7 linked regions of the Homo sapiens genome follow. The protein of the gene in region 6 interacts with the protein of the main gene of each other region in a biochemical or structural test. Each region holds a gene or a part of one and is shown on either strand. Other genes may lie near its edges. The genes, in order: MMP2, COCH, PRELP, NID1, PDGFA, COL1A1 and LAIR1.

What was found.
Region 1: the proteins of COL1A1 (region 6) and MMP2 form a complex in vitro, tested with the Homo sapiens proteins (one study listed by BioGRID).
Region 2: the proteins of COL1A1 (region 6) and COCH interact in a biophysical measurement, tested with the Homo sapiens proteins (one study listed by IntAct).
Region 3: the proteins of COL1A1 (region 6) and PRELP form a complex in vitro, tested with the Homo sapiens proteins (one study listed by BioGRID).
Region 4: the proteins of COL1A1 (region 6) and NID1 form a complex in vitro, tested with the Homo sapiens proteins (one study listed by BioGRID).
Region 5: the proteins of COL1A1 (region 6) and PDGFA form a complex in vitro, tested with the Homo sapiens proteins (one study listed by BioGRID).
Region 7: the proteins of COL1A1 (region 6) and LAIR1 form a complex in vitro, tested with the Homo sapiens proteins (one study listed by BioGRID).

Annotation. Positions count from the first base shown.
Region 1 is NC_000016.10:55,485,698-55,489,197, forward strand, and holds part of MMP2 (72 kDa type IV collagenase isoform 1 preproprotein), read left to right. Parts: coding exon 1-80; intron 81-2,845; coding exon 2,846-3,019; intron 3,020-3,500.
Region 2 is NC_000014.9:30,881,059-30,884,558, reverse strand, and holds part of COCH (cochlin isoform b precursor), read right to left. Parts: intron 50-3,500; exon of another isoform or gene 7-49; coding exon 1-6. UniProt on the Homo sapiens protein: Plays a role in the control of cell shape and motility in the trabecular meshwork.
Region 3 is NC_000001.11:203,478,806-203,482,305, forward strand, and holds part of PRELP (prolargin precursor), read left to right. Parts: intron 1-3,500. UniProt on the Homo sapiens protein: May anchor basement membranes to the underlying connective tissue.
Region 4 is NC_000001.11:236,044,591-236,048,090, forward strand, and holds part of NID1 (nidogen-1 precursor), read right to left. Parts: intron 1,094-3,500; coding exon 867-1,093; intron 1-866. UniProt on the Homo sapiens protein: Sulfated glycoprotein widely distributed in basement membranes and tightly associated with laminin. Also binds to collagen IV and perlecan. It probably has a role in cell-extracellular matrix interactions.
Region 5 is NC_000007.14:499,803-502,846, forward strand, and holds part of PDGFA (platelet-derived growth factor subunit A isoform 2 preproprotein), read right to left. Parts: intron 1,441-3,044; coding exon 1,314-1,440; intron 698-1,313; coding exon of another isoform or gene 642-697; exon of another isoform or gene 629-641; intron 1-628.
Region 6 is NC_000017.11:50,198,832-50,202,782, forward strand, and holds the start of COL1A1 (collagen alpha-1(I) chain preproprotein), read right to left. Parts: upstream 2,801-3,951; 5' UTR 2,683-2,800; coding exon 2,580-2,682; intron 1,117-2,579; coding exon 922-1,116; intron 760-921; coding exon 725-759; intron 623-724; coding exon 587-622; intron 497-586; coding exon 395-496; intron 1-394. UniProt on the Homo sapiens protein: Type I collagen is a member of group I collagen (fibrillar forming collagen).
Region 7 is NC_000019.10:54,354,932-54,358,431, forward strand, and holds part of LAIR1 (leukocyte-associated immunoglobulin-like receptor 1 isoform a precursor), read right to left. Parts: exon of another isoform or gene 3,405-3,500; intron 2,036-3,404; coding exon 1,997-2,035; intron 1,689-1,996; coding exon 1,560-1,688; intron 1,468-1,559; coding exon 1,425-1,467; intron 1,337-1,424; coding exon 1,299-1,336; intron 1,076-1,298; coding exon 1,023-1,075; intron 484-1,022; coding exon 337-483; 3' UTR 1-336. UniProt on the Homo sapiens protein: Functions as an inhibitory receptor that plays a constitutive negative regulatory role on cytolytic function of natural killer (NK) cells, B-cells and T-cells.

The sequences.
Region 1 (3,500 bases), on a different chromosome or scaffold from region 6:
CCGCAGCGATGGCTTCCTCTGGTGCTCCACCACCTACAACTTTGAGAAGGATGGCAAGTACGGCTTCTGTCCCCATGAAGGTGAGCATCCACTCTAGTCCCCAAGACTTTCCACCCCAAGCCTCCAGCTTCCCGGGCTCCCCAGTGTGCTCTTCCCTCCACACTCTCCAGGACTGGCTGCCACTGCCAGTTAATGAGCATCCCTCCAACGTCCTTCACTCAGTTCCCCCCCATCCTGATCTGAGCCATTGCTGTTTCTCTCCCACCAGTACCATGATGAACGTAGTACTCTAATTAAATCAAGTTGATTTTTTTTAAGTTTCACCATTAGCAATCATTTAGGAAGTCACAGATTTGATTTGCTAATTATTTATTTCTAATATATATTGGAGTGAACTTAGAACTATTACAATGCCCAGTGGTTCTCTCTAGAACCAGTCTTTACACTTCAGTCAAGATTGATACTTCAAGGGCATGAGGAAAGGCTTGCTGGTAGCTGGAAACCTAGCAGTGTGATAGGGAGGCAGGACTCAGACCAGGGCTGGACTCAACCTGGTTTGCGTACTCCAACTGAGGAATTTCAGCTATTGCTCCTGCCTTGGTCCTGATGCTGCCTCTGCTAATGCGTGTGTGTGTGTGTGTGTGTGTGCCTGTGTGTGTGTGTGTGTGTGTGTGTGTGTGTGTGTGTGTGTGTCTGGGCACGGGGGCTATACTATCTGCCTCTCTTGGGCACTGTCTTTTTCTGCCTCCTGTCTAGCTTGTGTCTGCATCTCTGTGTCTTGATAAAGACTTTAGGCTTGACTCAGTATTTGTGTTTGTGTGCTTGTCAGTGCCTGAGATGCAACATTTCAGAGATTTTGAAGCCACATGGGGGAAATCTTTTAAAATGGGGTACAGATATTGACATACACACTCAATCCTTTTTAAAAATATCCTTGACACACTTAATAGTCATAAATCACAAAAAGACAATGTAACTTCATACTCTATGAAGTCATCATATTTGATAATTCTGCAGATTGAAAGCCCAGAAAACCTGGCGAAAATGGAAAAAAGTCTAAAAATTTTTAACACTATCTTCTTTCCCATGTCACAAAGACTCTATAGTCTACATAGACTAAAGACTGTCTTTTTGTCTGTAATTTTATGTCTGTGAATCTCCCTAACCCCACTGTAACTGAAAACTAAGCACCAACCATCTTGACAGAATGAAAGAAACAAAGAGCTAGTTAATTCCCTTCCTGTTTATGCTTTTACTACCAGAGCTAAACTTTATATTAAGTAAGAGTTTAAGCCATTCACCATTAATAAGTCAGACATTTTGAAATAAAAATATTTTTTGTATCTTGCGTTTCCCGGTAGGGATTACATGTGGCGTTAACCCTTCCCTGTGTCACCCCTCTGATAGGAACAGAAAGCTTTGGTGATAGTTAGATGTGGAAACAGCTGTATTTCATAAATTTGGGAAGGGTTATTCCCTGCATTGGACATTAGCCATTTACTTTGTGCTTAGCCAGATGCAAGTACGCACAACACGCACGTGTCTGGGTCTCGAGGCAGAGATTGTTGTTACTCAGCCCCTGCTGATGGCTGAGTCAGTGTCTGATTCTTGCCATCCTTGTCAGGGGAATTTGGGAGGAGACAGGGGCTTCCTGGGTGGTAGAAATGAGAGGTCAGAGGCAGGGGGCTGGCATTGGTCGAAGTTAACGCTTTGCCTTTCTCAACTCTGAGGCCACTAAGGTATCTGGACTCAGTCTTGCCTTTTCTCTAGGTGCCATTGTTTCTGGCATTGCAGGACAAGGTCTTTTGGTAGAGAGGGGAGTGGTGAGGATACAGGGCCTCGAGTTCTGTGGTGGGAGGCCAGGGACTGGGCTCCATTCCGGCCATGGTGGAGTTAACGGGGGCTGGTGAGGTCACCTCTGGCGCCGTTGTGCACAGATGGTCCTTGTTATGGACTTGTGGTTTTGCTGGTTGGCAATTCCAGAGACACCATTTTTTAGCTTTGGGTGGATGAGGGGAGGATGGGGAGAATCCAAGACAGACAGGCCAGGCTCTGAACCCCACTCCCTCCCCCAACTCTCCATTTATGGCCCCTGTCTTGAAGATGTCAAAGTAGGAGCCCAGAGTGTTTAGTAAAAGGGACCTGAAGGCACCACCTCCCTCTCCCTCCCTCCTCCTCTTCATTCTTTCTCTCCTTCCTACAGAGACTGCAACAAGGCCATCCAGGAAGGGGCCTGGGGTTGACAGGAGGTAAAGCAAGCTTTCTGTGTATGCGTGTGCACGCACACACACATATATGAGAGTGACAGACTAAGCAAGAGAGATTGAGATTAGTGTGTTTTGTAGTTTTTAGTTACAACCTTCATTCACTTCTTTCATTTCTGTGACCATGAGCAGTTTGAGAACCATCTTTGTCCTAGCCTTGATTTCTCCACCTATCAAATGGAGAGAGATTCTCGTGGTCCTGCCTGCCATGACTGATATATTCATGTCATACATCATTATTACATGAAATTTGCATGGTACAGGTGTGGACCAGGCAGAATGGACAGTGCCCTTGGGGCTGAGGCAGGGTTCTAGAAGCCCTTGCTGTGTGCCAGGTGTCAATCATTTTGTTGTTGGGTGGTCCACAAGGTCCCACGGGAGGGATTGGGATAACCAGGGAAGCAGGGGTTCTCTCTGGGAGCTCAGAGAAGCAGCTCCTTACCAACCAGTAGAGATGTTTTCTTAATATTTTAACAATGCATCAACTTCACTGGTGTGAACCGGCAGGTGGGCAGCCAGCCAGCCCTGTGCCCATGGAAGCATGTCTCATTCACATCCTTCCCTCTCTCCCCCACCCTTAGCCCTGTTCACCATGGGCGGCAACGCTGAAGGACAGCCCTGCAAGTTTCCATTCCGCTTCCAGGGCACATCCTATGACAGCTGCACCACTGAGGGCCGCACGGATGGCTACCGCTGGTGCGGCACCACTGAGGACTACGACCGCGACAAGAAGTATGGCTTCTGCCCTGAGACCGGTGGGTGCCACTCCCTCTCCCTCCCTCAGGGCCCAGCACCTGCTGTCTGACAAAAAAAAAACCCATAAGACTCCGAGTGCCCACCTCCTTTCCCCAAGACAGGGGTGCTAAGACATCTGTGCGAATGACATCCACACCAAGATGTCCGTGTAGCTAGTCAGGATACTTGTCACCTGGTATGGCCTGGGCACTGAAATCAGAACAGACATTGGGCATCAACAGTTGAATTGGTGACACTTAAATGTCAGGCCTGCTCAGGATCCTCTGACCGACCTGCATCCCTTTTCTCTCAGGCTCTCTGGCAGAGACTTCTCTCTCCTCCTCTCTGACCCTGCAATCTCTCTTCCCTGCCTTTCCTGGTCTGTATCTCCACCTTTTAGTCTGTTTTTTATTAAGAGCTCCGTGCTTTCCTCCCTGTCTCCTTCCTGCCCTCCTCTCTATCCCTCCCTCCTTTCCTTCTTCCCTTCCTCCAACAGGAATT
Region 2 (3,500 bases), on a different chromosome or scaffold from region 6:
TGTTCACTGAGTGGAAGAAAGAAAATGTTATTCAGGGAGAATTAAAAAGGTAAAATAAGCAACATTACATGCCTTAAAAAACAGTTTTAAAACCAGACAACACACAAGTTTCTTTCTTAATTCCATAGTACATAGTCAACTGAGGCATTGCATCCTTACTTGAATTATTGGAGATATTTCAGAGGTGTAACAAATAATTGCCATATTGAGGATTTATTATATTCTGGGTAATAAGCCAAAAGCATAACACATGTAAAACCTCATTTCATCATAGCTCTATAAGGTTGGAATTATCCCAATTATGTAAATGAAGAAACTGAGTCTCAGAGCATTTAGGGAGTTTGCCTGATGAAACACAGCTGCATTTTAAGTTCAAGTTGTCTGGCTGCAAAGTCCATGCCTAAACTATACGGAGAACTTGAAATCGGGCTTGGCTCAGAGCCTCGGGTTTAACAGAAGTCCGCAGAGTTGGGCACCAGGTAGCTAAACTAAATGAGGAAGTGGCTGGGTATGAGACTAGGGTCTGTTCCAGTGTGGGACCCCAGAGGCTCTAAGTAGTGTGGATCTATTAACTCAGAGCTCTCTGTTCAGGAGAAACAATTTCATTGATGTGACCGTCAACATTTTTTTAAAGGGACAAAGGTGAAATGAATTATAAAGTTACAATATTGAGTTTTTCTTATAATGACAATGACATTTGTGCACCTTAAAATTATGTGTATTGTAAGAGTTTTGAGATCTCATTTCCTATATTTAATATTAAAGGAATTTCAGCTCACTTTTATATAACTACTCTGTGTTCAGCAGAGACCGTTTTGAGTATAAACAACCACAGCACAATCTGTTGTGTTTAGTTTCTAGATGAGTCAGTATTTCCTAGTGCAAAATTTAAGATCTTAGCATTATCAGTAGCCATTTTATTCAAGATTTTTTGAGGGAGAAGTAGAACACTGACTGTATTTCTGCATACATACCTGATGGAATATTGGGTCATAAAATCAGATTTCATGGGTTGAAAACCTTTTCACTTGTGGTCACTTTTCAACTATCCAGATTATGACTTATGAAATTAGTCTCATTTTTGTATCCTTGATATATTCTGTTCTTTGACTTACATACATATAAACTTGACATGGTTTACCTATTCTAATGGTCTTTCTAAAACAGAAAAACTACAAAACTTTGTATGAGTCTACAAGGTAATGAAGAATTCATCTTCAAAAAGAATTGGGTCAAAGTAGTCAGAAAAAAGTACAAGACAAAAAGTACTGCAGGGGAATTTGCCTCATGGGATGTTAAAATGTGCAATAAAACTGTGATAATCAAAGCAGCGTAGAAAAAAATATGTAAGGATTAGCATATGAATCAAAGAAATAGACTTGCTCAAACTCAGGTATAAATGTGATACCATAAGTCAATGAAACAAGGAACACATTTTTTTTAAGGGTGAGAGACAAATGGTTAAATTATGTTAAAACAGTTAAATTTTCTTCTCATGCCAAAAAAATTCTATCTAATCTAAGAGCAGAGCCACTTGTAAAAAATAACAGAAATGAAATGGAAATTAATATTTGTAATAGCACTGTTTATACAACCTTACACACTGCTGATAGTAGTTTAAACTACTTCACCTTTCTAGGAAGCAATTTCGCTATTTATTTGTTTTTTTAGAGATGGGGTCTTTCTCTGTTGTCCAGGCTGGAGTAGAGTGGTGCCATCATAGCTCACTGCAGCTTTGAACTCCTGGGCTTGAGAGATCCTCACACCTCAGCCTCCTGAGCAGCTGGCACTACAGGCATGAGCCACTGTGCATGGCTCAATTTCACTATTTATATCAGAGGCTTTAAGTCAGAACCTCACTTTTAGAAATCTAACCTGATGAAATAATCAGAGATGGGCACAAAGATGATATAAGGATGTTCATCACAGTGTAGTGTGTAATGTAGTGAAGAAATAATAAGAATGACTAATCATGCAGCGGAATATTATGAAATATTTTTGATGAATATTTGTGATATGAGAAAATGCTAAAAATACTAAAGGATGAAAAAAACAGGATGCAGGGCATTTTTAATAGTCTGAGTTTTTAAAAAATAATACAGTCAAATATTTCCTTAAAATACTGAAGGGGCCAGGCGTGGTAGCTCACACCTGTAATCCTAGCACTTTGGGAGTCCGAGGCAGGTGGATCACCTGAGGTCAGGAGCTCGAGACCAGGCTGGCCAACATGGTGAAACCTTGTCTCTACTAAAAATACAAAAATTAGCCAGGCGTAGTAGTGCACACCTGTGATCCCAGCTACTCAGGAGGCTGAGGCAGGAGAATCACTTAAATCCAGGAGGCAGAGGTTGTAGTGAACAAAGATCGTGCCATTGCATTCCAGCCTCGGTGACAGAGCAAAACTCCGTCTCAAAAAAAAAAAAAAAAAAAAAAAAAAACCATTTTATAGTGATTATCTCTAGGGCATATGATTTAGAGCATTTCTTTTTTTGTGCTCTATGTATTTTCAAGCTTTCTATAATGAGCATATTCTATTTCTAAAAGCAATTAATAAATAAATATTTATTTATTTATTTATTTTTATTTTTATTTTTTGAAACAGAGTCTTGCTCTGTTGCCCAGGCTGGAGTGCAGTGGCACGATCTTGGCTCACTGCAAGCTCCACCTCCTGGGTTCACGCCATTCTCCTGCCTCAGCCTCCCGAGTAGCTGGGACTACAGGCGCCTGCCACCACGCCCGGCTAATTTTTTTTTTTTGTATTTTTAGTAGAGACGGGGTTTCCCCGTGTTAGCCAGGATGGTCTCAATCTCCTGACCCCGTGATCCATCCGCCTCGGCCTCCCAAAGTGCTGGGATTACAGGCGTGAGCCACCGCACCTGGCCAGCAATTAATAAATATTTTTAAATGAATAAAATAGAAAGGTCGTGCTTCAGATCACCAACCAAGAGAATATGGAAAGAGCTAAAAAGAATAACAGAATAGGGAGGTGGAATAGACATATCACTGCTTCTTCCTTCAGAAGAGAGAAATTAGGAATTGAGCAGAGTAGATAAGCAGAGGTGACTTGTGTAAGCAACAGGACTCTCCAGTCTACCTTCTGGTTCTTATATAGATAGCACACAGTTTTCTAAATTCTTTTATTCCAAAAAGGAGGCACTCAGATCTACTCAGTCTGCCCAGGCAGTCTTAGATCCTGAACTTACAGTTTGGGAACCCAGTGTGTCCATAACTCAAATGTTTATACTGAACTGACATGTACCCACTAAAAGAACTGATCATTTGTCATCATTCAAGACTCATTCAAATCTCCTCTCATTTGATTTTTTTCTTTTTTTTTTTTTTTTTTGAGACATAGTCTCACTGTTGCCCAGGCTGGAGTGCAGTGGTGCAATCTCGGCTCATTGTAACCTCTGCCTCCCGAGTCCAAGTGATTCTCCTGCCTCAGCCTCCCAAGTAGCTAGGATTACAGGTGCATGCCACCACATCTGGCTAATTTTTGT
Region 3 (3,500 bases), on a different chromosome or scaffold from region 6:
CCATAAGGCTCCTTTGTTATCTCAGGACCACATCAGCCCTAATGGGGGCCTTGAAAGGGCCTCAGGCTCACTCCTCTACTAACTCTGCTCATAAATTGGCAAAGACTGCTTGATTCTCCCTGCTTCCAACACCCTTCTGGACTACAGGAAGAGATACAGAGAGCAGGATGGCTTTCAGACACCTAGGTTGAGAACAGAAAGAAGGGAAAAAAGAGAGAGGGGTGTTCCGACATTCACCGGCACAGCGCTAGGTCAGAAGCAGCCCCATTCTCCACTGCAGGGTAGCTCTGGGTCAAGGCATGGAGGCTTAGGGGTGACCAATTAGACAGGAGATCTGACAAGTAAGAAGAATGCCAGTTCAGAGTGCGGCGTAACCCTGCTGCTAGCCCTGCCTAGCCCTGGGAGACAAACCCAACCTCATTCCCAGCCCAACCTCAACCTCTCCATACAAAGCCAATTAGCCTTAAATAGCTGCTCCTAATGACTTGACCAACCCATCAGGACTTCCACCCAACCCTGCCCTGAGCAGAAACATTCCACCACTCCTGGGTTTTAACATTAAATTAATGAGAGAGATAGGGAAGGGGGCTATCTCACTTTAAAAATCAAGGAGTCCTTGGGGCGCTGTGGCTCATGCCTGTAATCCCAGCACTTTGGGAGACTGAGGAGGACAGATCACTTGAGCTCAGGGGTTGGAGACCAGCCTGGGCAACATGGTAAAACCCCATCTCTACAAAAAAGACAAAAATTAGCCAGCTGTGGTAGCACATGCCTATAGTACTAGCTGCTCAGGACGCTGAGATGGAAGGATCACCTGAGCCCAGGGAGGTTAAGGCTGCAGTGAGCTGTGATTGCACTACTGCACTCTAGCCTGGTCAACAAAGGGAGACCCTGTATCACCAAAAAAAAAAAAAAAAAAAAAAAAAAAAAATCAAGGAGTCTCTCTAGAGAATCTGCTGTTTATAAACAAATAAATGAGTAAGTAAGCCTCTGCCACTTGCAGAGATTTTGCACTTTATAACATGCCTTCAAATGCATGATCTCATTTGATCCTCACACAGATGAGGAGCCCGGGTTGGAGAGTCAGAGCCAGGAGTCAAGCCCAGATCCACAATAGTTGGAATTGAAATTAGAATTTAAAACTCTCTTAGAGGCTGGGTGCAGTGGCTCACACCTGTAATCTCAGCAATTTGAAAGGCCGAGGTGGGAGGATTGCTTGAGCTTAGGAGTTCAAGACCAGCCTGAGCAATACAGTGAGACCCCCATCTCATTTTTGTTTAAAGTGAAAAAAGAAAAAAAAATTAAGATTCTCTTAGGAAACGTTCTTTAATGTGGAGAGTGAATGTTGGGTTGGGCAAAGCAATTGCCTTTCTCTTCCGTGAAGCAGCAGCTTTTCCAGAACTGATGGTGGAGAGCAGAACTGCATGCAGTTGGCTGTTGTAGGTGGTCAACAAACCTTCACTGATTGAGCAATGAGCAGAGCCCAGTAGAAAGCTGTGGGTGGAGAAGTGCACTTGTGAAAGCATAAGAAAAATTTAAAAACACACACATGGACCCATCCTAAGGAATCTTATGATTGGACAGAAGTTTCTAGAAGGCAGGAGCATAGAGTGTGGGTCTGAGGCTTTGTAGGAGGGACTATGACTACCCATGGAGTCCAGGTACCCTCAGTCTGTCACACAGATTCTGGTTTCAGAGACCTAGGACATCACGGAGCACTGCCAGAGAGAATGGCTGTGCTGTCAGCTGTCAGAACTTTTCATCCTGCCTCATGGCAAAGCTCCGGCAGGAAGGGGCATCACCCCATGAGAAAAGCCTTAGAAATGAATGCTATTTCCTTAAGAGAGAAGCATCCCTGCACTTGGAATGGTTCTGATTCAGCCCTGGGGCTGAGGGAAGGGGAGGAGAGCAGGCTCAGCTTCCCCACATAACTTGCTCCTGGGAGCATTTCCTGGGGAACCTCCTGTTGGCTCTGGGAGCAGCTTGGCTAGGCCCAGAGGTTTGGAATGTAAACGGGTCAGAGGACTAGTGAAAAGATAAGTTCCCAAAGGGTCTGGTGCTGCACATGGGGATGAGGAAGGCCTGTGTTTACTGTGGATGAGAAGGCGCGCACAGCCAGCCTGCTGGGTGGAGCTGTGAGTAACCTGCCTGTTCCTCTCACCCCTGACAATGAAGACCAGGGCTGCCCTGGCACTGAGCCAAGGAAACCCCGCCCCGCCCAGCACAGGTCACAGCCACAGTGCCTCACTGCTTTTGCTGGAAGCCCTGGGCAAATTGGTGCCCAGTCCCTGGCATATGCTTTCGGTGACAAAGGCAATGAAGGGATATAGAAAAACTCCCGCCAGTGCTGGGAGCCTCCTTGGGACAGGGCTTCTCACAGTATGAAAGATTTCTAGATCATTTCTAGGCTTCTGGGTGATTAGAAAATAAATTTTTTTTTTTAAATCAGGGTCACAAAAATTGAGGCTTTTAGAAATGTTTGTTTTAGAATACCAATGCTTTAACTACCCCCTTAATTTATATGCAAGATGACTGTTCTGTTTTCCAGAAAATTACAGAACTTACACAATGTTAATTCATAGTTCACCAATTACAAGTGAAGTGGGGTTCAGCCAACAAGACTCAAGCTTAAAGTTTTGCAATTAATGCCTTCTCTTTTTAACCCTTGCAATGTATCTCTGACAATGTTATATCCTTAACGGGAGATCAAGCCAAAAACCTAACTGCAAGGTCCTTTGTGATAGGAGGCCAGGGAAAATGGCCTTCCAGACCTCCTTGGAGAGGCCTGCCTTGGAAGAGACCACCTTAGAGGGAGGTGGAGAAAGACAGTCTCTGCCTTCCTTCCCTTCCGCCTTCCTTCTTTCCTTCCAATACTCAGTGTACTGCGTATGGGCTCATATACGCACACAGAGGATAAGTGAGTGAGTTTGCTTATGTGCATGGGACCTGAAGAGGTGTGTGTGTGAGTGTGCAGACTGGATCTGCTGTTAAACAGCATCTTGGCCTTGGCGAGCCACTTCTTCCTTCCAGTCCTCAGTTTTTGCAAATGGTGGGGTCTGGAGTTGATTGGTGGATTTCAAGCCATTTTTAGCAAAGAAACGTGTCCCCTGCCCCTCAACAAATGAATGCTTCGGCTAAACCTCAATATATATAATAGGTTTTTTTAAAGAGAGCTGCTGAGGTTGGCACAGGGATGGGTTGAGGGTACCCCAGGGCCATCTCCTCAGTCTCCTCCCCACAGGGGTATGTCACAGAAATGAAAGCAGAGTTGGAAAACCACTAGGTTATAGGATCTTTAAGGACCTTTCTGGATTTAACCAGGACGCTAAGGTTCATACATCCTAACATCCCTCTCATGAAGACACTGATGATTTTCTCATGCTGTGAATGGGAGGACTGAGGGCCAGAGTGGTTAAGGGTCTTCTCTGACAAGCCCCAGGACTCCTGACTCGGAGTCCAGTGTGCTTTCTTTCTTTCTTTTTTTTTTTTTGAGAAAGAGT
Region 4 (3,500 bases), on a different chromosome or scaffold from region 6:
TTACCAGCACATCACTAAGTGAAGGGCAGAGGAATTCAAGCTAGATTTGAAGATATAAAATTAAAAGGTGGTTTTAGGGGATTCACTCTTGGTTTTTAAAGAATAATGGGAGAGGAAAGGTTTTAATCTTCAAAATCCAATTTGGGCTTTTCCCTCTTTTGTCAAATTCTACAACATAACCTGAGAGCACCATTTCTGTTGTAAGAATATTCCCCCTAGTCAATGTGAAGGAAAAGGTTTTCTCAGCCTTGAGATCAAAGGAGATAGGTTTGAATAACCCTTATTTCTAACAGTGTTTATAGACAAAATGGTAAAAACTGTCTTAAGGCCGGGCGCGGCACTTCATGCCTGTAATCCCAGCACTTTGGGAGGCTGAGGTGGGCAGATCACCCGAGGGCAGGAGTTCAAGACCAGCCTGGCCAACATGGTGAAACCCCGTCTCTACTAAAAATACAAGAATTAGCTGGGCATGGTGGCACACACCTGTAATCCCAGCTACTTGGGAAGCTGAGGCGAGAGAATCACTTGAACCTGGGAGGCAGAGGTTGCAGTGAGTCGAGATTGTGCCATTGCACTCCAGCCTTCCAGCTTGGGCAACAGAGTAAGGCTCTGTCTCAAAAAAAAAAAAAAAAAAAAAAAAAAGAACTATTTTAAATGAGGATGATATCTAAAAAATAGGATATCTGTTCATTCTAAAAATACATTTCCTTAAGTTCATCAGAAAAAGAGTATCTCATAATATAAAAACTATATGCAAAACTTAAATCCATAGGAACATTTTTAGGTAATGATCTATAATACACATTACATTATCCACATTAAAAAATATTAAGAGGAGAATCTACTGAAGAACAAAGAAAGCATACTTGGCCAAATTTTCAACTGATTCCCTGTCATTAGCAAATATGTTATAAGCTCCGTTGCTCTTCCATAAGAATCCCACTGAACCTTGACTGAATGCAACCACGGCAGGAACTTGGTTGTTTTCCTTCTTTGAGAATGTCGTATGGAACTGCAGACCATCCTCAGGATAAAGGAAAATGGCATAGGAGCTGGAATCAGAGGAGGCTAGAACAGCCTGGAACGTGTTTCTCTGTGAAGATGAGTTAAAATTCAGTTACTCGGAAAAATATCGATAGATTTTAAAATGTGTTATTCGCCAGACTATCTATAAAGCGTACAGTGCTATAGAGCGATGGCAATATTCTCACCTTATTCTAAAAGAAGGACTTTTGTAGCAAGAACCTAGGATTCTGGGATAGTTCCACTGAAATATCCCTAAGGCTATGTCAACATGACATTTTCTGATTAATTCATAAATATCTTCTGCATAACTGTGGCCCTAAGGTTAACCAAAAATTATACAGATGGTACCTCCAGATGGTGGCCTAAAATCTCACGCAGTTTAGGAAATTCTTACCCAAAGACTTTGTTTCCATGGCTGTTAACATATTCAACCGCATTCATCGTTTAACAAACATTTATTGAACCCAAGCACCGTACAGTAGAAAAAACAAAACAAAACATGAGATTTGGGAGAAAACAGACCTGGATCCAAATCTTTGCTCTACTCATTATTATGTGACTTGGGCGTGATACTTGAGTTCCCTAAGCCTCGATGTTTGCATCTGTAAAATGGAGATAAAACCACCTCCTTCACAGAAATGAGGAAGACTACATGAGGTCACGTATGAAAGAGCAGGCACATGCCGGGCGCGGTGGCTCATGCCTGTAATCCCAGCACTTTGGGAAGGCTGACATGTGAAGAAAACATTGCAAAACCTGAGGTTGGATTCTGTAATCGAAACATTTGCAAAGCGCTGCAGGAGCCGTAAGAGGAAGCGTCCCATGCCAGGAGCGGTGGGAGTGCATCCCATGCCAGGAGGCTGTGGTTGGTCAAGGCCTCACGGGAGGGCCCAGTCTGAATGAACAAGCAGGAGGAAGCTGCCACCTGTAGGGGGGTCAGGGAGAGGACGTCCCAAACAGAGAGGACAGCCTGTGCAAGATACTGCGGATAAAAAAAAAAGAGCAAGGGCAAGGTCAGGGAATTACATGTAATTTGGTATAGCGGCTGCAAAGGGTATGCGGAGGTGGAACAGATTAGGCCCAAGAGGCAAGCAAGGGATCCATACCAATGGGTTAGGCATTTATCACCCAAGTGAAAGGGAGGCAGCTGAGACACTTAACATTTAAGCTGTTTTCAAGTTTGGCACTCAGACAGATAACAGTTGGCAAGCAAAATGTGTCATGCAGGCCCCTAACAGACTTTCCCAAAGTGTGCTCTGTGGGATGTAATGCATCTTTTTTGGAGCGGGGGAAGGGAAGAGGTATGGTCACAGGTTTGGAGACTGCTCAGTTAAACAATATTCGGCAAGGCTGGAATGGTGGCTCACGCCCTTAGTCCCAGCTACCTGGGAGGCTGAGGCAGGAGAATCACTTGAACCCAGGAGGTGGAGATTGCAATGAGCCAAGATGGCACCACTGCACTCCAGCCTGGGTGACAGAGCAAGACTCTGTCTCAAAACAAAAACAAAAACAAAAACAAAAAAAGTAGTATTAGGCAAGTTGCAAGTTTCCTGACTGCAGGACTTTTCAGAGTGAACAGGGTGAATCACCAAGAGGGAGATATAGTTTTAGCATTTCCCAAACTAGAAGGCCTTTTCCTCAAGGTGTATCTTGTAGGACTGGTGTTTTGTGGTACACACTTTAGGAACCACCAGCCTGAAATACCTCCCATTTATATGAAGTGCTTTGGGACCCTTCAAGTTTCTTTCTTCCTCATTTTCCTATAAAGGTGAAGTTATGGTAGAGAGAAATTATTTTTCCAAGGGAAAATCGAGGCCTGTCCTAAAAAGTCACTTCAGGTCTAACAACGAGTTCCTGACCTACTCAAAGACCCTGCTTCCTTCAAGGGCAAGTCCGTGCTCTACAGCCTGGTCCTTCCAGCCGTCCCTGATGACTGCGCCCACGGAGAGGCCAACCCTGGGTTATGACAATACTTGGGTTTTGAACCACTCACATGGTCCAAATGATTCTTGTCTCCCCAACTAGAGTCTGGGCTTTACCTTTCTATCTTTGCATCCCTCAGGAGTACTTTGTTATTTTAACCTATCGTTTCATATTAATAATTTCTCTAGTCAGAAACTATCCTTCCAGCCGGGCTCGGTGGCACACACCTGTAATCCCAGCACTTTGGGAGGCTGAGGTGGGTGGATCATTTGAGGTCAGCAGTTGGAGACCAGCCTGGCCAATGTGGTGAAACCCCATCTCTACTAAAAATACAAAAATTAGCCAGTGTGGTGGCCCATGCCTGTAATCCCAGCTACTCGGGAGGCTGAGGCACAATAATTGCTTGAACCTGGGAGGTGGAGGCTGCAGAGAGCTGAGATTGTGCCACTGTACTCCAGCCTGGGCAACAGAGCAAGACTCCATCTCAAAAAAAAAAAAAAAAAAAAAAAAAAGGCCGGGCATGGTGGCTCACGCCTGTAATCCCAGCACTT
Region 5 (3,044 bases), on a different chromosome or scaffold from region 6:
AGGCAACTGCAGATGGATGCCACTAGCCAGACAGAAGGCGGACACTGATGATACCTCAAGACTACCCTCCCTGCTCTGCAATCCCACCCTTAGATGAAAGTCATGAAGCTCGATCTTATCTCAATCCCTGTGCTGTCTGGTGTTACTAGCAGCCAAATGCAATTTCCAACACAGTAGCCAACAGCCCTGCACGTTTATAAAGGATTTCCAGATATATTCAGCCTCCAACAGTCCTTATCTGTAATCTCAGTTAAGCCTCAGTTTTTTCATCTGTCAAATGGGGTGGGTGATCCCAGAGTGGCCAGGCGCTCAGAGCTGCCCCACCGCTGCTCAGGTCGCCCAACCTGTTCCATTCATGTGCAATGCTCCTGCATCCCCAATCAACGACAAAGAGAAGGACAAAGCTGGAGGCAGGCTCCCAAGCGGGAGTGAGCCACGGGCCAGGGCGTTCTGCGAGGCAGGAGCGGACGGGGAGCAAGGAGACCCAAGCCCAGCAGACACCATCAAGGCCAATCAGGGCCACATCCCCGCCGCACCCGGCGAGACAGGAAGCGTGATTTGCTGGTGTGATCAGTCAGTTGCACCTCCCCGCCCTGCAGGACTCAGTGTGTCCGGCAGACAGTCCTACCTGGTTGGCTGCTTTAGGTGGGTTTTAACCTTTTTCTTTTCCGTTTTTTACCTGACTCCCTAGGCCTTCCTGTTAACAAAAGGGCAGGGCGGTGAGTGGGCCGAGGGACGGCCGTCGGGGTGAAGAACTGAAGCAACAAATACCTACGGCATTTGTTTATCTTTCCAGAAGAGAAGGCCAGCACCCTGGCACCGAGAAACTTCTGAGTCCCCTCATGCTCCCAGGGCCCAGCCATAGCAGGGCACAGAAGCCATTCTGCTCCTGGGTGGAGTCCGCGTGGCGGGGTGAAGGAGAGACCCCAGCCAGCCAGGGCAACTGCAGTCCTCGAACCTGCTCCTCCCGCCCACCCTGGCAGGAGGCCCTTCTGCAGATTCTTCTCAGCTCAGCCCCGCAGCCCACTAATGAATTGGGTGTCTTATGCACTCCCAGCCCCTCTCAGTGAGACCTGAATCTCCTCTCCTGCCAGTGCCGCAGCTTGGGCCACCCTCCCCACCGGACACCTGCAGGTGTGGGATCCGTCTCCCCCGCAGGCATCTGGCCCGGGAGCAGGGCAACGAATCCTTCAACAGCAGCCCAGATGCTCACAGCAGTAAGCGTTGCGCTCAAGGGGGCCACCTAACACCCCAAAAGCAAGGCTCTGAAGACCTGTTCTCCAACACCGATGCCGACGAAGGCAGCCACTCACCCGTGTCCTCTTCCCGATAATCCGGATTCAGGCTTGTGGTCGCGCAGGCGCACTCCAAATGCTCCTCTAACCTCACCTGGACTTCTTTTAATTTTGGCTTCTTCCTGACGTATTCCACCTTGGCCACCTGCCAGAGAGAACAGAGCCCGGCCATGAATGCCTGCATGGAGCTTCGGACATCACGACGTGCTGGGAGCCGGGGACAGGCTGAGAGGGAGGAGAGAGCAGCCTGACCCCTGACCTCCTCCCAGAAACACTACCTTGTGGTGGGGAGTGTAGCAGTACCAGGTGAAAAACCTACAAGCTGCAGTGCAGTTTTGTGTGTGTGTGTTTTAGTTTTTTCTGAGTAGGGTCTCACCCTGTCACCTAGGCCAATCATAGCCTCTGCAGCCTCAAGCTCTTGGGCTCAAGTGATCCTTCCACCTCAGCCTCCCACCTGTAAGCACAGGCCACCATGCCCAGCTAATTTTAAATATTTTTTTTGTGTGGAAGAGATGAGATCTCGCTATGTTGCCGAGGTTGATGTTGAACTCCTGGACTCAAGTGATCCTCCTGCCTCAGCCTCCCAAAGTGCTGGAACTTCAAGTGAGAGCCGCCGCGCCTGGTGTTGGAGCATGGTATTTAGCAGACTCATCCTATTTTTGTTTAAAATAAACCCAAAGGTTCACGTGTGCCTGGGGGGGCTGAAGGATGCACACTGCTAAGGTGTGGAAGTTTGGGAGTTCTGGGGTGCAGGTGGCCAGGGAAAGTGTTTGCTTGTGTGTGGATGTGCAGCTGGGAAATGTTTTCAAATGATCACGTTGTTTTTAAATACATTTTAAAAGCCAGGCTGAGCATGGTGGCTCACGCCTGTAATCCCAGCACTTTGGAAGGCCAAGGCGGGAGGATCACTTAACTCCAGGGGTTCAAGACCAGCCTGGGCAACATAGTAAGACCCTGCCTCTAAAAACAATTTAAAAATTAGCAAGCCATGGTGGCACCTGTAGTCCCAGCCTACTTGGGAGGCTGAGGTAGGAGGATCGCTTGAGCCCAGGAGTTTGAGGCTGCAGTGAGCTGGTATCACACCACTGCACTCCAGCCTGGGCAATACACCAAGACCCTGTCTCTATTAATATTAAAAAAAAATTTAAAGCCATGGCCTAGGAATGGGGGGTTCGTGGCTGTATCCTAGCCCAAGGTTGCTGTGGACTTGAGCGTCCAGATGATAATCCCAGCTGCTGGCCTGATGAGGGCCCCACCTCCCCGCCGGCCCCAGGCAGCAGGGCCAGCAGACCCATACCCAGGGTCCCCTCATGGCTCCCCCAGGTCCGAGGCTCTCCTTGGGCTCGGAGAGGCCTGACCTCGGAAACCAGGGCCAGGGATCCTGGGCCATCACCGAGGCTACACAAGATGATCCAGGAGGAGCACAGGCCAGCAGGCCGTGGCTATCAGGCACAGGCAGCTCAAAAGCGAACCAGACCTCAGCTGGGTTCCCCTCTTCGGACTGGACTTTGCCTGTCTGCGAGCCACGCCTGCCCTCAATTCTCCAGGCACAAAACCACAACATGGGGGTCCTGCCTCCACAGCCCCTTCCCCGGGGAGCTGCAGGCAGACAATGGCCCAGTCCAGGCCAGAGAGGGGAGCTTCAGGCATTCAACAAGAGAGGCAAGAAATCACACACACACACACACACACACACACACACACACACACACATAATGCACATATAGGCCCTGTCACGGGAACACAACT
Region 6 (3,951 bases):
TTGGGGTGGTGGGGGGTGGAATCTATAAAGGACATTATCGGGACATCGGTGAACTTTGAATACGGACTGCACATTAGAGAGTGAATTTAATCATTGTGTAGGTCAGTTAAGAGAATGCTCTTGTTTTTAGGAAAAACACACCTAAGTATTTAGGCGCAAAAGAGCCTGATGTTAGCAACTTGCTCAAACAGTTCAGAAAAAAAAAGATACATATACATAAACAGAGACTAATAAAGCACATGTCACAAACTGTGAAGGGTATGTGAGAGTTTCCTGTAGGATTCTTGCAACTTTTCTGTAAGTTTGAAATTATTTCAAAGTATAAAATTATGTCATCTGCCAAAAAACAAAAACAAAACAGGGGAGAGTGGACACACAAGGCCTCTCCACTTACTCCTCCGAGGCCAGGGGGTCCGGGAGGTCCGGGGGGTCCGGGGGGTCCGGGAAGTCCAGGCTGTCCAGGGATGCCATCTCGGCCAGGGGGGCCTGCGGGTCCCTGCAGGGGGAGAGGGCGGGGCCGGGGTGAGCGTGGGGCCGAGAGCCATGCCCACCTGCAGCCCCCCACAGCCCAGAGTGCAACGCTTACCCTTGGGCCTCGGGGGCCAGTGTCTCCCTTGGGTCCCTGTGGGATTGGGGGAGAAGAAACAAGAGGCCAGGTTAGAGAAGGGAGGACTGTGAGGAGTCACGGGCCGCGCAGGGGCAAAATTCGAGGGCAGGAGATTACCTCGACGCCGGTGGTTTCTTGGTCGGTGGGTGACTCTAGGGGACGAAGAGACGCGCGTTAGAGCCAAGGTTTGCTAATGCTGCTCCCGTCGGCAGAGGCCTCCAGCACGGAGGGCCAGCGAGCGCCGACCACCCCCAGCCCCAGCCCCAGGCCCCAGGCCCCAGGCCCCAGGCCCCAGGCCCCGAGCGCAGCCGCACCTGAGCCGTCGGGGCAGACGGGACAGCACTCGCCCTCGGGGACTTCGGCGCCGGGGCAGTTCTTGGTCTCGTCACAGATCACGTCATCGCACAACACCTTGCCGTTGTCGCAGACGCAGATCCGGCAGGGCTCGGGTTTCCACACGTCTCGGTCATGGTACCTGAGGCCGTTCTGTACGCAGGTGATTGGTGGGACTGGGACAGGCGGAAGAGGGGCGTTGTCAGTAGTGACTGCAACCCCCAGCTTAACCACCTTTCCCCCGGGTCTAAGAGGCACACTTGGATTTTTCACTTCCCGCCCCTCCCCCCGTTCTTCTTTCCTCAAATCCTTAAAAGCTCGCCTGCTCCTCATCAGCGCGGGTGACAGCGCCGAGGCGCCTGGCCAGGGAGGCTGTAACTCTTTCCAGTTCTCAGGAATTTAAACAAAGCTTTAGTCCGCGGTGGCTTCCAACTCCAACCTCAGCCCATTGGCGCTGAAGCCAAGTGAAATAAAAACCACAGGGTGAGAGGGGGAGGGCGGGGGGAGAATAGGAGGGGCCCCATCGGGAGGGCAGGCTCGTGGGGAGTGGCTTGCGTGGTAGAGACAGGAGGAGGGCGAGGGAGGAGAGAAGGGAGGTCCAGCCCTCATCCCGCCCCCATTCCCTGGGCAGGTGGGGTGGCGGGGGCGGGGCTAGGAGAATGGGAGCGGCTGATTGGAAGGGAGGCCCCCCCAAGACTTGAAATGTACCTCAAAATTAGGAGACACCCTAACCTCCAGCACCTAGACATCTTAAAAGCCCGCTCTCGGGGCCATCCCCAGTCCCCCAAAGCCAGCCAATGCCTCCAGGTCACTTTTAGCCAAAGAACCAAAAAGTCCGCAAATAGTCCAGAAGTTAGCTAACCACTCCCACCGCGCTAGCGGCTCCCCAGACGGCCACTAGGTGTCGGGCAACGCTAAGCAATGGGGCCGGGGCGGGGCCGACCTCACCGGCCCGACTACCTCTTTAAGAGGCTTGGGCTGCCCCATCCCTGGCTTTACTTTCCAGATCTAGAGGTGGGGGTCCGCACCCAGCAATAACCCGGGTCTTCCCGCTCCGGCTCCTGCCCCAGTAAGCGTTGGACCGGGAGACGCAGTGCTCAGCATCGGTCAGCAGGGGGCGCAAGGACCCCGCCCCGCCGAGTCCGCGCCAAAGTTTCTCATCCTCCACCCGCCCACGCTCCGCACCCCCTCCGCGGCTGCCCAGCACCCCCACGGCCCCAGCAACACTCTAGCCCGCAGAGAGGGCAATCTTTCCTTATGAATCATCCCACGGCCTTCCTGATTGCTTCTACATCTTGGGCTTCAAATGCCCCGCTCGGCGCCCCCATCCCATCTTCGACGTGCTTTCCTCACTCTGCACCCAGATCCCCACTTCCCCGGTTGCGCGCTCGGGATTCTCTCTTGCACCAACTCACGCCGCGCTCCACCCTCACCTCCCGCTCCCGGGGCGCGTTCAACCCCAACCTCGCCCCAGGGTGAGCTCCCTCCTGTCTCAGGGCGCCGAGGAAGAGCCCTCATCATCTCCCTTCCATTCCCGAGTCTCCGGATCATCCACGTCTCGTTTTAAGCCGCGGCCCCCGGGACCAAGCGCAAGGCGCGATATAGAGTATCCTTGCACTCCCAAAAGTTTGGGACTTACTGTCTTCGTCTTGGCCCTCGACTTGGCCTTCCTCTTGGCCGTGCGTCAGGAGGGCGGTGGCCGCTAAGAGGAGCAGGAGCCGGAGGTCCACAAAGCTGAACATGTCTAGACCCTAGACATGTAGACTCTTTGTGGCTGGGGAGGGGGTTAGCGTCCGCTCATGCGTGGCCTCACACTCCGCGTGCCTCCTGCTCCGACCCCGAGGAGAAACTCCCGTCTGCTCCGACGACTGGCCCGGGCCCCTTTTATACTGTCCTGATGGAGAGCAGGGAGGAACCCTGCCCCTCGGAGAGGGGGAGCCGGCCGCCCGTGCCCCAGCCAATCAGAGCTGCCTGGCCCGGCCCCCAATTTGGGAGTTGGAATGGAGAGGGGGAGGAGGAGGGAAGGGAGTCCACCCCACATCTCCCCTCTTCGCAGCTCTGCCTCCCCAGCCCCCCAGCCCAGCCTGGGCCAGAGGTGCTGTGGTAGGGGTGCAGCTGGGTCCTCAGAATGGCGTGGGCTAACCAGTGGGTAGGGGTGCCCCTCTGCTCTCTTCCTGGGACCTCCAATCTAGAAGAAGTGGAACTGGGGAACTGGGGAGCTGGGTGGGGAGACTTCCAAAGGTGGAAGGGTTGGGGGTGTTGGGGAGGGGGTCCTCCTGGCTGTGCCCCAGTCACCCTCTGATATCCTGGCAAGAGCTAAGGGAGGGGCATAAAGAGGCATGCTGAGGACCTCTCCAAAACAGAGGAAGCTGGGAATTAAAAAGATGTGCCTGTTTGGGGGTGTCTTCTGGTGTGGCTAGGGGATGGAGCTTAGGAATATTTGGGGAACAATTTACAGATTCCTTTCTAGACATTAAGAATCAGATATCTGAGGGAGGGGTGCAGGCAAGGGAGTTTTAATTTTGAGGATGTCAATTCTTCTGCTGTGCTCCAGAACAGAATCAAATGCCTTCCTCCAAACCCTAGGCATGATTGAGAGATGGAGTGGGGAGGCTGAGGTGCAGGGTGAGAAACATGACTAGGTGGCCTCTGCAGAAGAAAGCTTTGGTGGTTGGGTGATGGAGCAGCCAAGGTAGGGGTGGGGGATTCTAGGGACACAGAGGTGGGGATTGGGGCTTGCAATCCCCTAAAAATTCATCCCCCAAACTCTTCCACCCCAGAGTTGGGAAGTATTTTTAGTGGGAGGCCTGTGATCATTGGTGACTTAGAGAAGAGTTTTGTTTGCCATGGCTGTGGCCAGGGGCTGCTTAGAGACCCTCCTTCCCAGCACAGTCAAACCAGAGAGAACCTGGGTGGAGGGAGGGCACTTAGCTAAAGGGGTGTCTTTCTGGGAGCTGCATAAAGCCCCTTCTCCAGTTGTACCTGGACTCAGTGTTGGGGATGTATGGGAT
Region 7 (3,500 bases), on a different chromosome or scaffold from region 6:
AGAACAGGCAGGTGACTTTAGCTGGGTCTCTGGAAACAGTCAGGTGAATAAAGCTGGGTCTCTAGAAACAGCCAGGGAACTGTAGCTGGGTCTCTGGAAATAACTGAGAAACAGTCTGTCCAAGGAGCTGCTCGATTGTAGAAGGGACCACCTGGCTAACGAACCTTCTGGATGCTGGTTAGAAACCTCCAGTCTCCAGCTCTTGTCTCCAGGACAGCTGCCTGGCTGGCTTTCTAGATGAAGAGGAATCCAACAGGAAGCCTTCCAAATGGCTGCTTCAGGCTTTTCCTAGAGTGACTTTCTACCCTCAGGTGCAGAGGCCAGGTGGGTATGGGGTCAGTGTCTGGCAACGGCTGCATACGTGATGGACTCGGCCATGGGCTTTGTGGACTGTGGGGACACAGCCCGGGCTGTCCTCTGTGTGAGGGCCCAGTGGTCCAGCTGAGCATACGTCACCTCCTGGGAACTCCCTGCAGCCAGGGCCTAAGAGGGAGAGACCCAGGGTGAGGGAGTGCCTGGTGGAGGGTGAGACGAGGGGCTGTGGGGAGGGAGGGCTGTGGCGGCCATCTCCATGGGCCCTGAGGACCCTCTCCTAAATTGCATCCGTGTGAAGAGCCCTCCCACAGGGTATTGGGGTTGGTTTACGTGACAATGAACAAGGCAGAAGGGAAGACTCCTGACTTCCAAGCTGAGCCAAAAGACATGGTGCTTCTGTCCCCTCCCTGCCACCCATCCTTGGATCCCTCCCTCTGGGGGAAGCCGGCTGTGTGGAGAGGCCCCTGTGAGAGGAACAGAGGTTTCCTGCCCACAGCCGGGGAAGTGAGCGTCTTGGACGTGGATCCTCCAGCCCACGGGAGCCTTCGGATGCACACAGCCCTGGGCGACCTCTCGACAGCAACCTCAGGACAGGCCGTGAGCCGGAACCGCCCAGCTGAGCCACTCCTGAATTCCTAACCCAAGGAACTGAGATTTTTTTAAGCTGCTAAATTTGGGGTACTTTAATAACTAGTAGGAAGGCTCACCGAGGTGTCCGTCTCTCTGTCCTTCTCAGGAAGTCCATTGACTGTGGCCTTGTCTTGGGGAGAAAATACATGGTCAGTTTTCTGGGGAGGATGTCGCAAGGCAAATCTGCCTGAGACCCCCACCCCCAGCTTCCGATGACATCCTGCACCCAATGTATAATACGACCTTCTAGAATGTTCCCAAAGATTCTTCCCCCCACCCCCCACATTGCATCTGGATTGGCACCAAGTCCCCACTTCCCCATCCCAGGCCTGTCCCTCCTCCTCCCCCTTTACCTGCTGTCCTCTCTAGAACATCAACAGCCAGGTCAGGCCTAAGAGGAAAAATAAAAGTGAACCTCAGGGGCAGCCTGGCGGCCGAGGACTGGGTGGAGGTCCAGGAGTCATTCCCAGGGGCCTCACCTCTGCTGTGGCTTCTGCTCCTCGTCCTTGCTTCTGGGGGGCCCTAAGGACAGTCGGGGTGTGAATTAAGGAGACCTTCTTCCTAGCCTCTCCTGACAGCTTCCCAGGTCACCCCACCCTGCCCCTGAGACCTACCCTGCTTTATCTGATTCTGGCGATGGAGGCAGAAGAGGACCAGGAGGAGGAGACAGAAGAGGAAGACCACTGAGACCCCGATGAGAATATACAGATGCTCAGCTTTCAGGCCTTGGGAAGCAGGTGCATCTAAGAAAGACAGAAACAGGATTTCAGCAGTGTGCATTTATTGAGCACCTACTGTATACCACACACACGTCACGTGCGTTTCATAGACTTACTAATATATAAAATATCTTAGGTAAATAATAGTCCTGCAGTACAGGGATCGTTATCCCCTTCTTCCACCACCGGGGTCCTGAGTGCTGGAGTCCTCTGCACAGGGACACAGACTGCCATTGGCAGAGCAGGAATCTGATCAACCCCAAAGCCTGACCTCTTTCTCCTTCCCCAAGAGGCACACACCAGCTTCATGCTCCACGGCCCCCATCACTCACGCTCATTGTGACTGTTGTCCGACGGCCTCTGCGTGGGTCCTGGGAGGGAGGAATCAGAAGGAGGAGGAGTTAGAGTCCTGAGCTGGACAGAGAAGGCTCTGAGTCCTCCCACATCCACTGTGGGGATCTCCCTTCACTCCCCAGGACCCTGACTGCTCCCTCTAGACCAGCACCGACCAGCAGAGTCTTCTGTGATGATGGAAACTTTCTACATCTACTGTCCAGCATGAGAGTCACACATAGCTATTGATATTTAAATTTATCCAAAGTTGAATGGCATGAGAAGCTGGCTGCACCGTCTGCACCTCCAGGACTCAGTGACCCCACGGGCCTGATGCCATCCCTACTGGACGGTGCAGATACAGCGCGTTTCCTGGGCGTGAAGCTGTAGTAGACATCGCTAATTTCTGCCCTCTGCGGATCTAGGCAGAGACCAACCACCCGCAACAAGAGGAAGGGAGACCTTCCCTCCCTGACCTCCTTCTGGGTTCCCACCAGAGGGCAAGAATCCTCATGTCTGATTTTATCTGCCCTCCCGGCAACCCTCTGACGGGGATGTAACCCGCCCTCCTGTGGGAAGAATCCAAGTCCCGATGTGCTCCTCTTTCCTGAAGCCCTGCAGCTAGCGGGCGAGTGTGTGGGGCACCGCCCAGGCTCCCTACGCAGCGCATTGCAGGCCCGCCCGTCATCTCCTCCAACCTTCACCCTCCTCTGCACAGTGCACGCCACTACCCAATTCCCAGGTGGCTAAATGGGGTCCTGAGGGGCTCCCCCAAACCCAGGGTCCGAGCCAAGCGTCCCTCTTCCAGGAACAGCGGTCCCTCCCCTCCCCCGGGGCTGAGGCAGCATCTTCAATATCCTTCAAGAAAGGCAGACATTCTCTCTTGGAATGTCCTTCCCTCCTGCCTCGTCCACGGTCTAAGGTCCAGGACACCACCCGTTATTCTACACCATGACTTCCTGGGCTTGGTCTTCATAACATTTGCCACCATTTAAAATTACATATGTATTATATATGTGCAATATTACAGTTTTTATATTATTTATAGTTATATGTATCATGTATTATGCAAATGTATAATATATAACAAATATATTTTTAATTATGTAATCTTGACATATACATATAATTTAATGTATATAATGTTAATTGTATATGATTTATAACTTATAATATATGTTACATATATTCACTATAATATATAATGTATAATTTATATTTGATATAAACCTATGATTAAATATAAAATATTTTTTCTATTATAGTTATACATAATGTATACATAATAGATAATATATTTACATTAATACCTATATTTATTTATTAACTATAACACTTGAAATTTATTATACTATATATTGTAAATATATCTTTCATATAATATATAATATACACTATAGTCATATGTAGTGATACACTAACATGTTTTATTATATAATTATCTTCCTTATATATATAATATATATATAATATATATATATATTATGATGTAAACATATATAA